Regions from separate parts of the Homo sapiens genome. Here all the other regions are reported to be linked to region 5. Evidence: microRNA targets listed by miRTarBase, many of them from high-throughput screens and not tested one by one. Region 5 holds a microRNA gene; each other region holds the end of a gene's coding sequence.
What was found. The annotated mature microRNA hsa-miR-6836-3p reads AUGCCUCCCCCGGCCCCGCAG and lies in region 5 at 1,013-1,033, shown strand. An mRNA with a match to its seed (bases 2 to 7 or 8) in the 3' UTR can be bound and repressed. Matches are read on the target gene's strand: a 7mer-m8 pairs with bases 2 to 8, a 7mer-A1 pairs with bases 2 to 7 and ends in A, and an 8mer does both.

Region 1 (3,062 bases), not on the chromosome of region 5:
TGTGAAACCTTCATAAGGTCATCAATGGTCAGATGACAGTTCAAATTCAAGCTCCATCACTTGCTAGCTGGCTAAACTTGAGCAAGTGTTTTTGGAGCCTGTTTTGTCCATAAAAAGGGAATAATAAACTCAAAAGATTGTGGGGATTAAACAAGGTATCTGAATGTGCCTGGTATACCATCTAGGTAGGGACTAAGTGTTCTGTGAAACGGTGGCTGTTTATCTTGCCATTTTCACAAATGCCACACCTGGCTTTGTGCTTCTTAACCACTTTCTTACAATGATGTTTTAATTCCTGTGAAGAAATAGCCCACAAGGTATTTGTTCTGTCAAAGGCTTGGATGAAATGTTTTCACCCAACTGCTACCTCTTGGACCAACCAAAAAACAAAGAAAAACAAGTCGAAGGGAACTAATAGCAAAATTTAAACCTGAGAAACTAAAAATCTTTGTTAGCACATTATATCCAATTGCATGCTAATTCACCAGTGTTCTTCATTATTTTACACATACTACAAAGAAGAAAAAAAGTTCTTTTCATCATAATCTATGAAATAGAATTCATTAATACCTGAACAATAGTGAAGTGAGCAACAGAGGGTAGTCCTGAGAATTCAGAAGCTGAACAACTACATAGGAAATGCAACTATTTGGTTATAATTGAAATCAGATTAAAAACAGTATGTTTAGGTCAGGCACAGTGACTCATGCCTGTAATCCCAGCATTTTGGGAGGCCAAGGCAGGATTGCATGAGCCCAGAAATTTGAGACCGGCCTGGGCAACAAAGTGAAATCGTGTCTCTACCAAAAAATCAAAAAAATTAGCTAGGCATGGTGGCATCCTCCTGTGATCCCAGTTACACAGGATGAGGGGATGAGGCAGGAGAATCATTTGAGCACAGGAAGTCAAGGCTGTGGTGAGCTGTGTTCGCACTACTGCACTCCAATCTCGGCGACAAAGCGAGACCCTGTCTCAAAATGAAACAAAACAAACCAGTTGTTTGGCTATATATCACACATTCAGGGTCCACAGAATAGAGCTGACCAAAGCCATTGTCAACCTCTCTGCAACAGCAAATTAAGTTTTTTTGAGATGGAGTCTTGCTCTGTTGCCCAGGCTGTAGTACAACGGTGTGATCTTGGCTCACTGCAACCTCCGCCTCCCAGGTTCAAGCGATTACATACGTGAGCCACCGTGCCCGGCCAAGAAGCCTTTCTTTAATAACTCTCCTCTGTAGACAACCTTTTCTTCTTCCAAATTCCTATATATTTTTTTGAATTTACTGTGTAATTTGAGAGTTCAGAGGCTGTATAGTTGAGGTGAAAAGAGGTGCATGACAGACAAGTTAAGAATTGTAATTGAGTCCAGGCCTGGCTTACTGGCAGTCTGGCCCAAAATGCAAACAGCCTTCTATTTTAAAAAAAATTGTTAACAAGGTGCTAAGGAGACATAAATCAGAGTAATCCATATTTGAGATCATCCATTATATCCCAAACCAAAAAAAAGAGACCTCTATGGACCAATGGCTAGGATTCAGAAAATGCTTAACTATAGAAAATAATTCTTTATAGGGTAGTTTTGTAACAGGATTTTACCGTAGCAAATGTGGAATAAAGAAAAGGTTTAGGTTTAGGAACACCCATTAGGGTTTTTTCGTTACTTCAACATAAAGTACCCTTTAATACACGAAGTACATCCTTTAAACAGCCAAGAGAAAGGAGGTTGTACAATAGAGACGTCATGTTTGCTTTCTAAACATTTGTTTGACTCCTGACACAATGGTTTTGCTTTGGGGTAACATGAAGGTTGCCAAACTTCAAAGTAAAAAAAAAGATATTTTCTGACAAAGCAAATGTTCAGTTCAGAGTTGCCTGATGCTGTCAGCATTCCAAGCAAACTCAATAGGAAGAGGTGAAGTCTTCTTCACTGTATAACCATCGGCGTGGCTGCGGTCTACTGCTTCACATCCCATTCTCCAGGGAAAGGAAAAGTGCTCGCTATGATGCATTGTTTAACCAATGAGTGGTGAGATGTGCCTCTTTACCTGAGGGCTTCCAGACTATAGTTCAGCCACCTTGCTCTCTGGGTCATATGTAGTCCTGAAGCATGTACCATGTTATGGAAAGCCAAGTTTCAAGAATTAAAAATGCAGAGTCAGTCACAATCCTGGGTGCTGTGAGGAAGGCTATAAGGCATTCGAACAAATTTTTTTTTTTTTTGAGACAGGGTCTTGCTCTGTCACACAGGCTAGAGTGCAATGGCGCAATCTCGGCTCACTGCAACCTCTGCCTCCCAGGCTTAAGCAATCCCTCCCACCTCAGCCTCCCAAGTAGCCGGAATCACAGGCAGAAGCCACCGCGACCAGCTAATTTTAGTATTTTTTTGCAGAGACGGCATTTGCCATGTTGCCCAGGCTCGTCTTGAACTCCTGAGCTCAAGCGATCTACCCACCTCGGCCTCCCAAAGTGCTAGGATTACAGGCGTGAGCCACCACGCCCGGCCAAACAAAAGATTAATAAAAACAATGTCTACACAGTTCGTGGCAGGGCGTAAAAAGGTAATAAATTTTCAACCGTGAGAGGGGTTCCCCATCACCTAGGGATTGGGCTGCCTTCCTGGAGTGGGGGCTGACATGGAAATCCAATTCTACTGAGGGTCTATGCATGGTAATTGGCAGAAAACATGATAGAACTAAACACTTCAATTCTTCTCGTTTGAGGAAAACAGCTCCTTAGAGAGAGCTTGAGGTTCAAGTCCTTTTCCCATTGTCATCTATTCAGCCATCCACAGCTTGAAGGTCCTGTCATATGAGCAAGTGGCTATGAGCTGCCCATCGGAAGAAATATCTAGGCCCATCACTTTGCCTTCGTGGCCAGCCAGAGTCTTCAGCGGGGACCAGCCTGGGTGCGTCCAGATCTTGGCTGTGTTATCATAGGCACCAGTAAGCAAGAAGTTCCCATGGATAGCTACAGGAGAAGAGAAGGGGAATTGCTTGAGGAATTCAAGTATTCAAAAGAGAAGACAAAAGCACAAAAGTCTGCAAAAACATACTATTTTTAAAA
Region 2 (3,062 bases), not on the chromosome of region 5:
CCAGCAGCATGGGTTGGGTTTTGCAGGGAGTCATTTACCCCTGTTTTGATCTTCAGGGATCATTAGAGGGTCATTTGCAGCATTTTCAAGCATTGGTTTATGTAAGAGGGAAATTCTGCCACATGACTCCAAGGGTTCTGAGTCTGGCCCTTGGTATGGCAAAAGACATTTGCAATTCTGTGCAAGGAGATCATGGGGTTTATCTTACTCCATTCACATATACATGGGCTGCATACCAACTGGCCCTTATTCAACTGAAAGAATAGAAAAGAACAATAAGTTCTTTATACTGTGCATTGATTCTTACCTGGTATATTGTGTAGCTACCTGAAGTAATTGTAGGGTTATAATTACATCATGGTGGGAATATGAATGGGTTTCCTAGGTAAGTCTTAAGTTTTGTGCTATCTTTTCTTTTTCATAAGGGAGAAAAGAGGAAGAACACTGAATAAAAGAGAGGCTTATTGTATTTTCGGAAAACATATAAAACATTTCCAGTTATATATATATATATAGCATATATAACTAAAAACCTCCCCATCTCTCTTGTTGGATGGGTATTTGAAAATAACAAACTCTTGATATCTGCAGCAATCAAGTGGAAAACATCATTTTTATGTAAACTACACTGCAGAGCCATGTAATTAATCTCAGTAACAGGATCAGCACACACCCAAAGAAAAAACAAGCTCTATGAGTAGTAGTAGAGTGGAAAAGAACTCTCAAACACCTGACTTTGTAAAACAAAACAAAAAACATGTAGCTTCAGCAGTTTAGGAACATTCACCAATTCTATCAAAAATGATGTAGTTCTTTATCAAAATGATGGGAGAGGAATTCTTCATAGGGTTCTTGATATATGCCTGCAAGTTCCATTTATGATAACAAAAGTTAAATCCTCTATGTCCCTTATTCAACATGCTTGATTGATTGACATGTAGAGAACTAGAGTGGGCCCTTTGTTCTGATCATAAAAAAAAAAGCAAGATGTGGCCAGGCACAGTGGCTCATGCCTATAATCCCAGCACTTTGGGAGGCCGAGGCGGGCAGATCACGAGGTCAGGAGATCAAGACCATCCTGGCTAACACGGTGAAACCCCGTCTCTACTAAAAATACAAAAATTTAGCCGGGCATGGTGGCAGGTGCCTGTAGTCCCAGCTACTCGGGAGGCTGAGGCAGGAGAATGGCGTGAACCCAGGAGGCAGAGCTTGCAGTGAGCCAAGATCGTGCCACTGCACTCCAGCCTGGGCAACAGAGCGAGACTCCATCTCAAAAAAAAAAAAAAAGCAAGATGTGCTAACATCTAACACCTTTATGTTCAACAACTTGAAGTTATCTCTGAAGAAATTATTTTCTCACTTTTTTTGCTTTTCAGAGACTAGAGAGCAACTTTACTCACTACATAAATTTATTTGCATTGTTACATCTTGTGTTCAGAGTCTTGATAAAACTATAGCCACGGCTTACAACATTATTAAACAAGCTTCTTACAGAAACCAAAAATATTTACTTTTAAAGAAGACATGATAATATAGTGCAAACAACAGTCATGTGTCAGAGTGTAACAACTGATTCAAAACCTTTAGAACTAAGTTTCAACAGGACAGAATTTTGCTCAATAGAATTTACATATTTTCTTTCCTTTAAAATGGTTTTCATAGCCTGTATAATCAATTTGACATGGTATTTATAACTTATTTTCCTTGTAATGAAAAGTATCAACAATAATTAGTTGTTTATCCATTTGTGTGATAAATGTCATATATATTATTTAGTGAAACTTAAGTTCTTCAGATTTAAAGCAATTTTGTGGTGAAATTAACCCTGTTAGATAGTAGAAAAGAACCATCAGTGCTTCTGTTGACACTTCTGTACCTTACTACCAATAAAAAGGCCACGAGGTAAAAAGGCACATAGAATTCTATAAAAAACATATTTAAATGAATCAGAGTTGCTAAATAAAGAACAAGGATGTGAAAAAAAGTACCAAAATTCCAATATTGGGAGTTAGATTTCCTGTTTCAGTGTTATTAATATTGACCTTAATAGATTCCTGGTAAAAATCATTATTTTTAAAATCCTACAAAAAGTAAAACTTTGTTGGAAACGACTATGTTCACTTCCTGTTCAAACAATAAAAATAAATTAAACAGTAAGAAAACATATTTTTCAGTTCATAGCGCCTGAAGAGAAACATATACATTAAAAATAAAATTCACTGTAATTACTCAAATCCTGCTTATAGAACTGATATATTTACATTTATACTGAAGTTTCAGAGTTTTTAGTGGAGTTCCGCACTTTCTCAGCCACACTGAGCTATTAGAAATCACATTTGGAAATGTGTTGAGACAAATGTGTTTGAGACCCAAGACTTTCTCAAAAAATGCTGAAAAAGAGGTGTGTGTGCATATATATATGCATGCTACTTAACTTTAAAAATATGTACCATTTATGTTTCTTAACCTTTTCAATGCCCATGGAGTAAAAGTAAACAAAAACAATTGTATTATTTCTAATGGTCTGCAGCTATCTTTAATTTTCTATGTTAGGTGTATACATTTTTTAATTTAAAAAACTATCAAGTTCCATTTTGACCTTAGAATTATAGAGTCAACTAAATGATTCACTTTGACTTGATACATTTCACCTTGTCCTTTGTCTCCATCTATTTAAAAGAGAAATTTATAAGTGAACAAAAAGGCTGCAATAATGCAGTTCTACTCCTGTATACTTAACTGTGATCTTCATGCAGATCAATCTAAAGTCTCTTGTATGCATATACTTGCAAAACTAGAGTGTTTTCCTTTAAATGGGAAAATGTTTTGTGTCCTTGGGGCTTCATGAAAAGATTTGCCGCTGATGCCAAAAAGAGGTGAGGAGGAAATAAAGTTCATAAGTCTTGCATATCTTCATCCAGCTGGACAGTCTGGAGCTTGGCAAGCTCTTTTTTGTCTGTTTCCAGGTCTTCACAGACAGTATCAACCATGCCATCTAAGACATACTTGGATTTAGAGTCCAGCATCATTAAGCTACTTGTTGCTTTGCTCTCAGAATTTGA
Region 3 (3,062 bases), not on the chromosome of region 5:
GCCCTGGTCCAGCTCTTGAGGGGACCGGGCCTTCAGCTGGGGCAACACTGGGCCTCCAGCCGGGCCCCGCTGAGCCTTGATGTTGAGGGAGGAGCTCCAGAACTCTAGGGAACAAGAAACCGACTGGGGCCTCCGGGACTGGTTAGGGGAAGTTTCCCAACCAAGGCAAGGCAGGGGCTTCGGGCGGTGTGCTGCGAGCCTTGCCTTCCCCTCGGCCTCAGCTTGTTCATCTGTGCAATGGGTGGCAGGAAGCCCTTACCAATGCCCAGATGGGAGATGGCCTCCAGCTCTTTGTGAGTGGCTGCGTGGTGGATGGCTCTGGGGAGCTGCAGCGGGAGGAGAAGGATGTCCCTGAGGCCAGAGAGGGGAGCAGAAGGGAGTGAGGGCCGAAGAGGGCGGGAAGGATGGGCTGTCCCAAGGAGCAGGGCCCGTGGACACCAGGCACCCTGCGGGCAGACTCACCGGGTGTGGCAGTAGGCACAGATGAGCTGGACTAGGTCTGGGAACATGAGCTCCGAGCCCTCCAAGGAGACGCCTGAGAGAGGAGGGAAGTGAGGTGCTTCTCTGGGGAACCTCCCTGCTTCCAGCCCCTTCCCGCCAGGCCAGCCCCTCACCGCCAGGGCTCTCCAGGATGTAGTGGCTGGAGACGAAGGAGGGGCCACTGGCTTCAGGCAACCGCATGCACAGGGCCTGGCACTGGCGGGTGTTAGATTTCCGCACGAGGAACGTCTGCAAGTGGATAGGGCTCAGGCAGCTCAGGACCTTGGCGTCCCATCCCTCTCCCTCCCACCCCTGGCTGGCCAGTCCCTGGAGTGTGGGGCAAGACTCACCCCCGGGGGCTCGGTCCTCAGCATGTGCAGTGCGGCCGCTGCGTTGGCTTGCAGCTGCAGCCACACGGGCCGGGTGAGCAGCAGGCGCTCCCGCAGGCTCACAACGCGCCCCGGCCGCTGCGGCCCGCCTGCCTGCCCGCCGCTGGCATTGGGCACGTCATACAGTGGGTCCTGGGCTGGCCTGGGGGCAGGCACCCAGATCTGAGCAGGGAGCCAGGGGCTGGGACCCTTGCTCTCCTCTTCCCCACTCCCGGGTTTCCCACTTTCTCTATCCCCGGATAGGCCCTCCTCTCGCAGCCCCTCCCTGCCCCACCTGGCTGCCCTGCCAACTTCACTAACTTTTCTCTCGCCAGGTGCCCAGTAGTGAAGCTGGACGGGCTGGGGGCTCCAGGAGAGCCCGCGCCTGACTCTCCAGGGCTTTCCATGGCTGGGAGCTCCTTCGCTTCAGGAAGAGAATCCAGTCCCAAGGCAAGGCACGCACATCCCCAGTGAGTAACACTTCCTGAGGGCGGTCCGCCTGTCACACCCGCCAGTTAACTCTTGTGTGTCCACCCTGCCTGGCCAGTGCCCGCCTCCTCTGTTCTGGACCCTGCTTTGGGGGTCAGGGGTCCCCTCCATGCTAGCCCTGCTCTGAGGGCCCCAGCTGGGGGATGCCACCTCCACACACGGCCTCCTGCAGCCTCACCAGCTACTCACATTGCACACGTGGGCGGGAAGTGGTTAAGCGGCCTCAGTCCCCACAGGCCCCAGCCATGCTCTGGGGGCACCTTTGGCTCTGTGGTCAGTTGCTCATCTGCCCCTGGCCTCAGGTCAGCCTTGTGGGAGAGCACCCTCTACTGTCCATAGATGACTCATTCCTGAACCTGGGTTTTAGGATTTTAGGTTGCCATGGAGAAAATATGCCATGTCTCCATGGAAACCAACCTATTTGCTTAACTGAGGTTCTGGGGGTGGTTCTGACACTCAGTGCTAACCAGGGGGAGTCTGGCTGTGAGGTCGTCAGCACATGGCGGTGCTGCCGGCTGCCTCCCACGCACGCAGGCTCTGCCAGCCTGCCTTGCCAATCTGCCAGGCAACTGGGACAGGTGCAGACATGACCCAGGCTCCAAGCACACGCATCCACCCTCCCCGCCGAGGCACTCTCCCGGTGCCATATGTTGACTCTGCCCAGCGCCAGGCAGCCCAGCGCCCACCTCCCCCTCCCCAGCCTGGCCCCACGCACAGTGCTCTAGCCTCTGCTGGGTAGTGTGAGGAGTGGCAATCTGCAGGCACCCTAGAAGTCGGCCTGGTTCAGGTGCTCCCCACGGGAGCCCTGATTCTCTTGCAAGGTAAATCACACACACACACAGGGCACGCCAGAGTCCCAGGAAAGGTTTTAATTCCAGTCCTTGGAATCTGAGAAGCAGACACCAAGAACTGCCCTGAGAACACCTGGGGGGCCTGGCATCTTGCCTCCAGATCCAGCCAGGGTGGACAGACCCCCAGATAATCACGTCTGACTCAGAGTTCCCGCACAGTGGAAACTGGCTCCCTGGCCCTGAGGCCGGACAGCCTGCATCCAACATCAGCAAGAGGATGTGGCTTTGACTTCGGCTGTCTTCTCTGTCAGGGGAGCCCCAAGAGATGGATCTTCAGGAGTGGGAGGTGGCAGGCGGCTCAGGGATGGAGACAGCAGCCTTGCCTGGTCAGGTCAGCTCCACGGCCACAGCTGTGCAGGCCTCGAGGAGGGCAGAGGAGGAGTCCAGGCCAGTGCCAGATGGAGTGGGAGGGCCCAGCAGCACCACAGGAGCCTGGCTGGGCAGACCCTGAGGGGCCTGTGGGTCCGCCTGTCTGCAGGAGGAAGACGAGAATCCTGGGTGCAGTGCCAGCTGCTCTGAGGGTCCCCCTGGCTGTGAACAGCAGGGTCAAGGTCCTGTGCATATGTGGGAAGAAGAAAACTGTCACCAGTTAGGAAGCTGAAAGGAAGGAGGCAGCCACTTACTGAGTGGCTTTGGGCTGGCCCAGAACAGGCCTCCTGGGCAGCTCCACAGCCCTCCCTGACCCCTCCTGAGTGGGAGCTCCATCAACCCAGAGCTTCCCCAGCCCCATCCTGGTTCCTGCTCCTCAAACTCCCACAAGCCCCTCAAATCTAGACCATCCTAACTTTCTTGAGCCACTGATTCTGACACAGTCACAGCCTTTCTCTGGGCTCCTTCCTGGAAGCTGAGCTGAGGAAAGGTGATGGCAAGGGGG
Region 4 (3,062 bases), not on the chromosome of region 5:
GAAACCTTACAAATGTGATGATTTTGACGAGGCCTTCAGTCAAGCTTCATCTTATGCAAAACAAAGGAGAATTCATATGGGAGAGAAACATCACAAGTGTGATGATTGTGGCAAAGCCTTTACTTCACATTCACATCGCATTAGACATCAGAGAATCCATACCGGACAGAAATCTTACAAATGTCATAAGCGTGGCAAGGTCTTCAGTTAGAGGTCACTCCTTGCAAAACATCAGAAAATTCATTCCTGAGATAATTGTTCCAAATGCAATGAGTATAGCAAACCATCAAGCATTAATTGACATTAGAGTCAATTCAGCATTGACTTGAGTTTCAGTTGACTTGACATTGAGTTCAAGCATTAATTGACATTAAAGTGTTTACGTTAAGAGGATTGGGCTGGGCAGGGTGGCTTATACCTGTAATCCCAGCACTGTGGGAGGTCAAGACGGATAGATCACTTGAGGTCAGGAGTTTGAGACCATCCTGGCCAAAAGACGTGAGCCACTTTTCCTAGCCTGTTTTTTGTTTCTGATAGGGATTTTTATGGGTATTGTGTTGAATCTAAATCACATTGGGTTATATAATCATTTAACAATATTAATCTTTCCAATCCATCAATATGGGTCATATCTCTATTTATATAAGTTTTTAATCATTTTGATCAATGTTTGTAGATTTCAAGGTACAAACTTCTCACCTTTTTACGTTTATTCCTAAATATTTCTTACTGTAAGTTCTCTAGCAAATGGAAGTGTTTTCTTAATTTTCTTTTAACATTGTTTATTGTTAATGTATGGAAATTTAACTAATTTTTGGTACTGATATTGTATTCTGCAAATACACTGTGTTTATTAGCTTCAGTAGTATTTTAGTTGACTCTGTGATTTTCTACACAGCAGATCATGTCATCTACAAACAAATACAATTTTACTTCTTTCTTTCTGAAAAAAAAAATGGATAACTAATACAGATGCCTACCCTGAAACATGCCATTTTTTGATCCTTATGTTTTGGGATCTTTCTCACTACCACTGACCAACTTTTCATATCCTGAAGATATGAAGCAGTGAAAATAAGAGAATTCAAGACAGGCTAAAAAAAAAAAAATGCCAGGTGCAGTGGCTCATGCCTGTAATCCCAGCACTTTGGGTGGATCACTTGAGGTTAGGAGTTTGAGACCAGCCTGGTCAACATGGCAAAACCCCACCTCTACAAAAAATACAAAAATTAGCCAGGCGTAGTGGCACGCACCAGTAGTCCCAGCTACTGGGGAGGCTGAGGCAGGAGAATCACTTGAACCTGGGAGGCAGAGGTCGCAGTGAGCCAGGATCGCCCCACTGCACTCCAACCTAGGCAACAGAGCGAGACTCCATCTCAAAAAAAAAAAAAAAAAGATATGTCAGTGTGGTGTAGGCAAAAAGTATGGACACATAGAAATATGGAACAGAATAAATAATCTAGAAATAGTTTCATATGAATATAGTCACTTGATTTTGACAGAAATGCAAAGGCAATTCAATGCAGCTTTTTGTATTGGTTTCCTATTGCTACTATAAAATATTACCATAAACATAGTGGTTATTATAAAACAATACAACTTGATTATTTTACCGTTCTGGCAGTCAGAAGCCCAAAAATGGGTCTTACATGGTAAAATCAAGGTATCAGTAGAGCCATGTTGATTCTGGAGGCTCTAGGGGAGAATCTATTACTTGCCTTTTCCAGCATCTAGAGGCTGCCCACATTCCTTGGTTCCTGGTTTTTGGCCCCTTTCAGCAAGGACATCACTCCAATCTCTGGTTCTGTCATTGCATCTCCTTCTCTGACTCTGACCCTCCTGCATTTTTCATAAGGACCCTTGTGATTACATTGAGCACACCTGGATGATCTTTTCAACAAGTGATGGAACTAGACATCTATATGCAAAAAACAAACAAACCTTGGCCAGGCATGGTGACTCATGCCTGTAATCCCAGCACTTTGGGAGGCCAAGGCAGGAACATCACTTGAGGCTGGGATTTCAAGACCAGCTTGGGCTACATAGCAAGGTAACATCTGTCCAGAAAGTTTTTTAAATAAAATATTAGCTGGGTGTGGATGGCACATGCCTGTAGTCCTAGTTACTCAAGAGGCTGAGGCAGGAGTATCACTTGAACACAGAAGTTCAAAGCTGCAGTGAGCTGTGATCATGCCACTGCACTCCAGCCCAGGCAATAGAGCAAGACCCTGTCTCTAAAAAATAAACAAATACTGAAAATATTTACTCTACAAAAGATATGGGTAAGGAAATGAAAGGTGAGCCAAAGACGGGAAAATATTTGCAAATCATGTGTTTGACCAAGGACTTGTTTCCCGCATATTCAAAGAACCCTCAAAATGCAGAAGTAAGAAAACCTTATTTTATTTTATTTTATTTTATTTTATTTTATTTTATTTTATTTTATTTTATTTTATTTTTGAGACAGAGTTCACTCTTGTTGACCAGGCTGGAGTGCAATGGCACGATCTCAGCTCACCACAACTTCCACCTCCCAGGTTCAAGCACTTCTCCTGCCTCAGCCTCCCGGTAGCTGGGATTACAGGCATGCGCCACCATGCCCGGCTAATTTTGTATTTTTAGTAGAGACAGGGTTTCTCCATGTTGGTCAGGCTGGTTTCAAACTCCTGACCTCAGGTGATCCACCCGCCTCGGCCTCCCAAAGTGCTGGGATTACAGGCATGAGCCACCGCGCCCAGACAAGAAAACCCTTTTTTAATCACAAAAAATGTGAGCATTCACTTCACCAAATAAGATATACAGATGTCCGAAAAAGCACATCAAGAGATGTTCAACATTACTAGTCATTAGGGAAATACAAGTAAAACTACAATGAGATACTACTACATACCTATTAACATGACTACACACACATACACACACACACACACACACACACAAAACTGAGGATACCAAGTGCTGGTGAGGATGTGGAGTAATTGGAACTCTTACACATTGCTGGTGAGAGTGCAAAATAATACAGTCACTTTGGAAAACAGTTTGACAGTGTCTTTTAAAGTTAA
Region 5 (3,123 bases):
CGTTTTGCACACGGCTCACAGCGTTATATGGGAACTCGGGTTTTCTGCAGTGCTTGATGGAGCCTTAGGGGTCGGGGGGTCTGGGGCATCTGGCTCTCCCAGCATATGTGTTGGGAGAGTCGCCGGCTTTGCGAAGGCCTGAGAAAGGCAAGGCAGGCCGGGCTGATGAGCAGGAGGGCGGGCAGCTGTCCCGCGGGAACGCAGGCCTTGTTCCCATCAAGACTGCTGGGCCAGGCCCAGCGCGGTGGCTCACGCCTGTAATCCAGCACTTTGGGAGGCCGAGGCGGGCGGATCACGAGGTCTGGAGATCAAGACCATCCTCGCTAACACGGTGAAACCCCGTCTCTACTAAAAAAAGAAATACAAAAAATTAGCCGGGCATGGTGGAGGGCGCCTGTAGTCCCAGCTACTCGGGAGGCTGAGGCAGGAGAATGGCGTGAACCCGGGAGGCGGAGCTTGCAGTGAGCCGAGATCGTGCCACTGCATTCCAGCCTGGGCGACAGAGCGAAGACTCCGACTCAAAAAAAAAAAAAAAAAAAGACTGCTGGGCTCGAAGGCGTGTCCGCCTGGTAATGGGTGGGCTGGTGGGGAAGGGGGCCCCCTGCAGACCTGGCTGGTGGTCCTGGGGAGCCCGTCTGACTCTGGGAGGAAGGAACCGGCCCAGGCCAGGCTTGGGTCTGAGTTCCCGGGCAGGGACCGGGTCCTATGTGCGTCCGCGTGGGTGAGCTCCCCCTCGCCTTCCAGGGTAAGCAGGAAGAGAACGACGTGGTGGAGAAGCTGAACCTCTTCTTGGATCTGCTGCAGTCCTATAAGGTGAGTCTTGGCTGCTCCTTGGCTGGGGGCAGAACTTTCAGGAATGATCTTAGGATCCTTCAAGGGTCTAACTCCTGGGGGACGGAAGAGGAGCTGAGAAGCCAGGGCTGCAGGGGAAGACGGGGCCTTCCGTCTGGCGGGGGTGCTTCCCTCGGCCGGCTCCGCAGGGCCCTGGCGCAGGCATCCAGACAGCGGGCGAATGCCTCCCCCGGCCCCGCAGGACCTGTGCGAGCGGCATGAGAAGGGCGTGTTGCACAAGCACCAGCGGGCCCTGCACAAGTACAGCCTGATGAAGAGGCAGATGATGAGCGCCACCGCGCAGAACCGCGAGCCGGAGTCCGTGGAGCAGCTGGAGTCCCGCATTGTGGAGGTGGGTGGCGGGGCGGCCGAGCAGGCCCGTGGGAGCCTTTCCCCTCCCGGCCATGGTGGGACCCGGAGCCGTCCTGGTGGGCTCCCCTGGGTTGGCTCCTTGTGTCTGGAACAGAGCTGGGGGTGCAGTGGAGGCAGGGAGCTGGCCCGCGTGCCCAGAGCGATGCGGCTCCCTGCACGGTGCTCCCTCCCCGGCCCTCTCTTACCTCGCCACCTTCCAAATGCCTGGTGAAGGCTGAAGGAGAAGGGGCCGCCCTGGCTCAGGGAGCACGCTGGTGTTCGGGCCTTGGTGCTCCCGTCGCCGGCTGGGCCGGGTGCGAAAGGCGGCTGTTTGCTCCGCAGCAGGAGAACGCGATTCAGACGATGGAGCTGCGGAACTACTTCTCCCTGTACTGCCTGCACCAGGAGACGCAGCTCATCCACGTCTACCTGCCCCTCACCTCCCACATCCTCCGCGCCTTCGTCAACTCTCAGATCCAAGGGCACAAGGAGGTGAGTCCGCCCTGCTCCGGCCGCCGTCTCGGCCACGGCCTTTCTTTGTCCCTCCGCCCTTCCTTCAAGCCCGGCAGCGCGGTGGCCGGCCGCCCTAGAGAGGTTCTTTAGTGGAGTTGGGCTCCGCATGGGCCTTGGAACACGGTGCTCGCCCGGATCTTCTAGTCTCCTGTGTAGCCAAAATCAGAATCGTGAGGGTGTCCCTGTGATTCCTGGGGGGCGGAGGGAGGAGCAGACAGGGAGAGTTTGCCTCCTGGAGGGATTTGAGAAGTCGGAGGTAAAGCCCGCAGAGCTCCCGCACCCTGCGGCTGAGAGAAGGTTTCTAGCGCTTCGGAGCGCCGCAGGTGGCTGTTCTTCCAGAGAGCCCTGGCCGGCTTCCTCCAGAGCAGATGGCGGTTCCTTCAGCCTGGGAGAAGAAACGCTCCCAAGGTCCTGGGACAGGCCTCCGTTGATTTCTGGTGGCCAGCTCACTGCAGCACCGCTGGGATTACAGGCGAGCACCTTGTGCCCGGCTGAAATTAAGTTTATTAAGTAGCTGCAAGTAGCTTTCAAGCCATGGTCTGTGGTGTGTGTGGAATGGCACCGAGTGTCTGGGGTGGTCACGAGATTCCACACTGTCCCCGGGAGGTGCTTGGTGCCGTGGGTGCCGTCCAGCACTTTGGGAATGGCAGGCTGGAGGCGGCCGTGGTGGGGCTGGAGAGGCGGTAGACAGCCGCCGTGTTAGGAGCATCACTGTGAGATGGCCAGGGTCTCAGGGACCAGGTTGGACTTGGACATGTGAGTGGCCGGGTGTGTCCTCAGTGAAGGAATGGGACCAACAGGCGCCCGGAGCATGATGCCATAACCCCAGTCCTACCAGGTTTTTTATTGTGGTGGTGAGGAATTTCCAGCCCTGTGATGCTGTGTGCGCTGTGGTCCAGTGACTCAGCCTCCCCTGCAGGCCCCCAGGGTGCGCCCTGCCCTTCTCTGGCCACCTGAGCCCCTGCACGGCAGGTCTTGGCCTGACCCCTGCCTCACTGCCGCGCTCCCCTCCTCACATCCACAGCATCCGTTCCTTGCCCTGGTTCCAAAAGTGCTTGGCGAGTGGGGCCGCCGTTTGCATTCCGGTTTGGGTATTATTGATTTGGTGGATGTGGTCTTTGTGTTTTTGGTTTGCTTTTTGGTTTTGAGGTGGAGTCTTGCTCTGTCACCCAAGCTGGAGTGCAGTGGTGCAATCACAGCTCACTGCAGCCTCAACCTCCCGAGTAGCTGGGACCACAGGCAGGTGCCACCACATCCGACTCATATTTCTGATTTTCTGTGGAGACAGGGTGTCCGTGTGTTGCCCAGGCTGGCCTTGGTGTTTGACCTGCCAAGGCTTCCATGAGGCCAGTGCCCGCACGGCAGCTAGAGCATGTACTGGCAGTGACGCGATAGTAACGTTTCTCACGATTCCACGGCAGGCAGATT

Region 1: miRTarBase lists PRPF4 as a target of hsa-miR-6836-3p. Seed matches in the 3' UTR shown: 7mer-m8 at 2,287-2,293.
Region 2: miRTarBase lists SIX4 as a target of hsa-miR-6836-3p. The part of its 3' UTR that is shown has no 7-base or 8-base seed match.
Region 3: the mRNA of BRMS1 is a reported target of hsa-miR-6836-3p. Seed matches in the 3' UTR shown: 8mer at 2,279-2,286.
Region 4: the mRNA of ZNF860 is a reported target of hsa-miR-6836-3p. The part of its 3' UTR that is shown has no 7-base or 8-base seed match.

The regions. Positions count from the first base shown.
Region 1 is chr9:113,291,371-113,294,432 of GRCh38, reverse strand. PRPF4 (pre-mRNA splicing tri-snRNP complex factor PRPF4) reads right to left here. Exons shown (of 14, transcript NM_001244926.2): 14 at 1,528-2,966. The coding sequence ends at 2,773. Among named protein-coding and RNA genes, the nearest start is that of RNF183, 10 kb to the left of the region's middle.
Region 2 is chr14:60,710,513-60,713,574 of GRCh38, forward strand. SIX4 (SIX homeobox 4) reads right to left here. Exons shown (of 3, transcript NM_017420.5): 3 at 1-3,062. The coding sequence ends at 2,895. Among named protein-coding and RNA genes, the nearest start is that of SIX4, 12 kb to the right of the region's middle.
Region 3 is chr11:66,335,148-66,338,209 of GRCh38, forward strand. It overlaps BRMS1 (BRMS1 transcriptional repressor and anoikis regulator), which reads right to left. Exons shown (of 10, transcript NM_015399.4): 10 at 2,192-2,742. The coding sequence ends at 2,735. RIN1 (Ras and Rab interactor 1) reads right to left here and starts at 1,287. Exons shown (of 10, transcript NM_004292.3): 1 at 1,170-1,287; 2 at 831-1,011; 3 at 615-729; 4 at 463-535; 5 at 260-351; 6 at 1-104. The coding sequence starts at 1,255. RefSeq lists an enhancer at 1,767-2,621.
Region 4 is chr3:31,990,768-31,993,829 of GRCh38, forward strand. ZNF860 (zinc finger protein 860) reads left to right here. Exons shown (of 2, transcript NM_001137674.3): 2 at 1-956. The coding sequence ends at 211. It also overlaps a transcript of OSBPL10 not described here. Among named protein-coding and RNA genes, the nearest start is that of ZNF860, 11 kb to the left of the region's middle.
Region 5 is chr7:2,255,425-2,258,547 of GRCh38, reverse strand. It overlaps MIR6836 (microRNA 6836), which reads left to right and starts at 971; the gene lies at 971-1,033. SNX8 (sorting nexin 8) reads left to right here. Exons shown (of 11, transcript NM_013321.4): 8 at 745-813; 9 at 1,034-1,183; 10 at 1,525-1,674. RefSeq lists an enhancer at 1-636.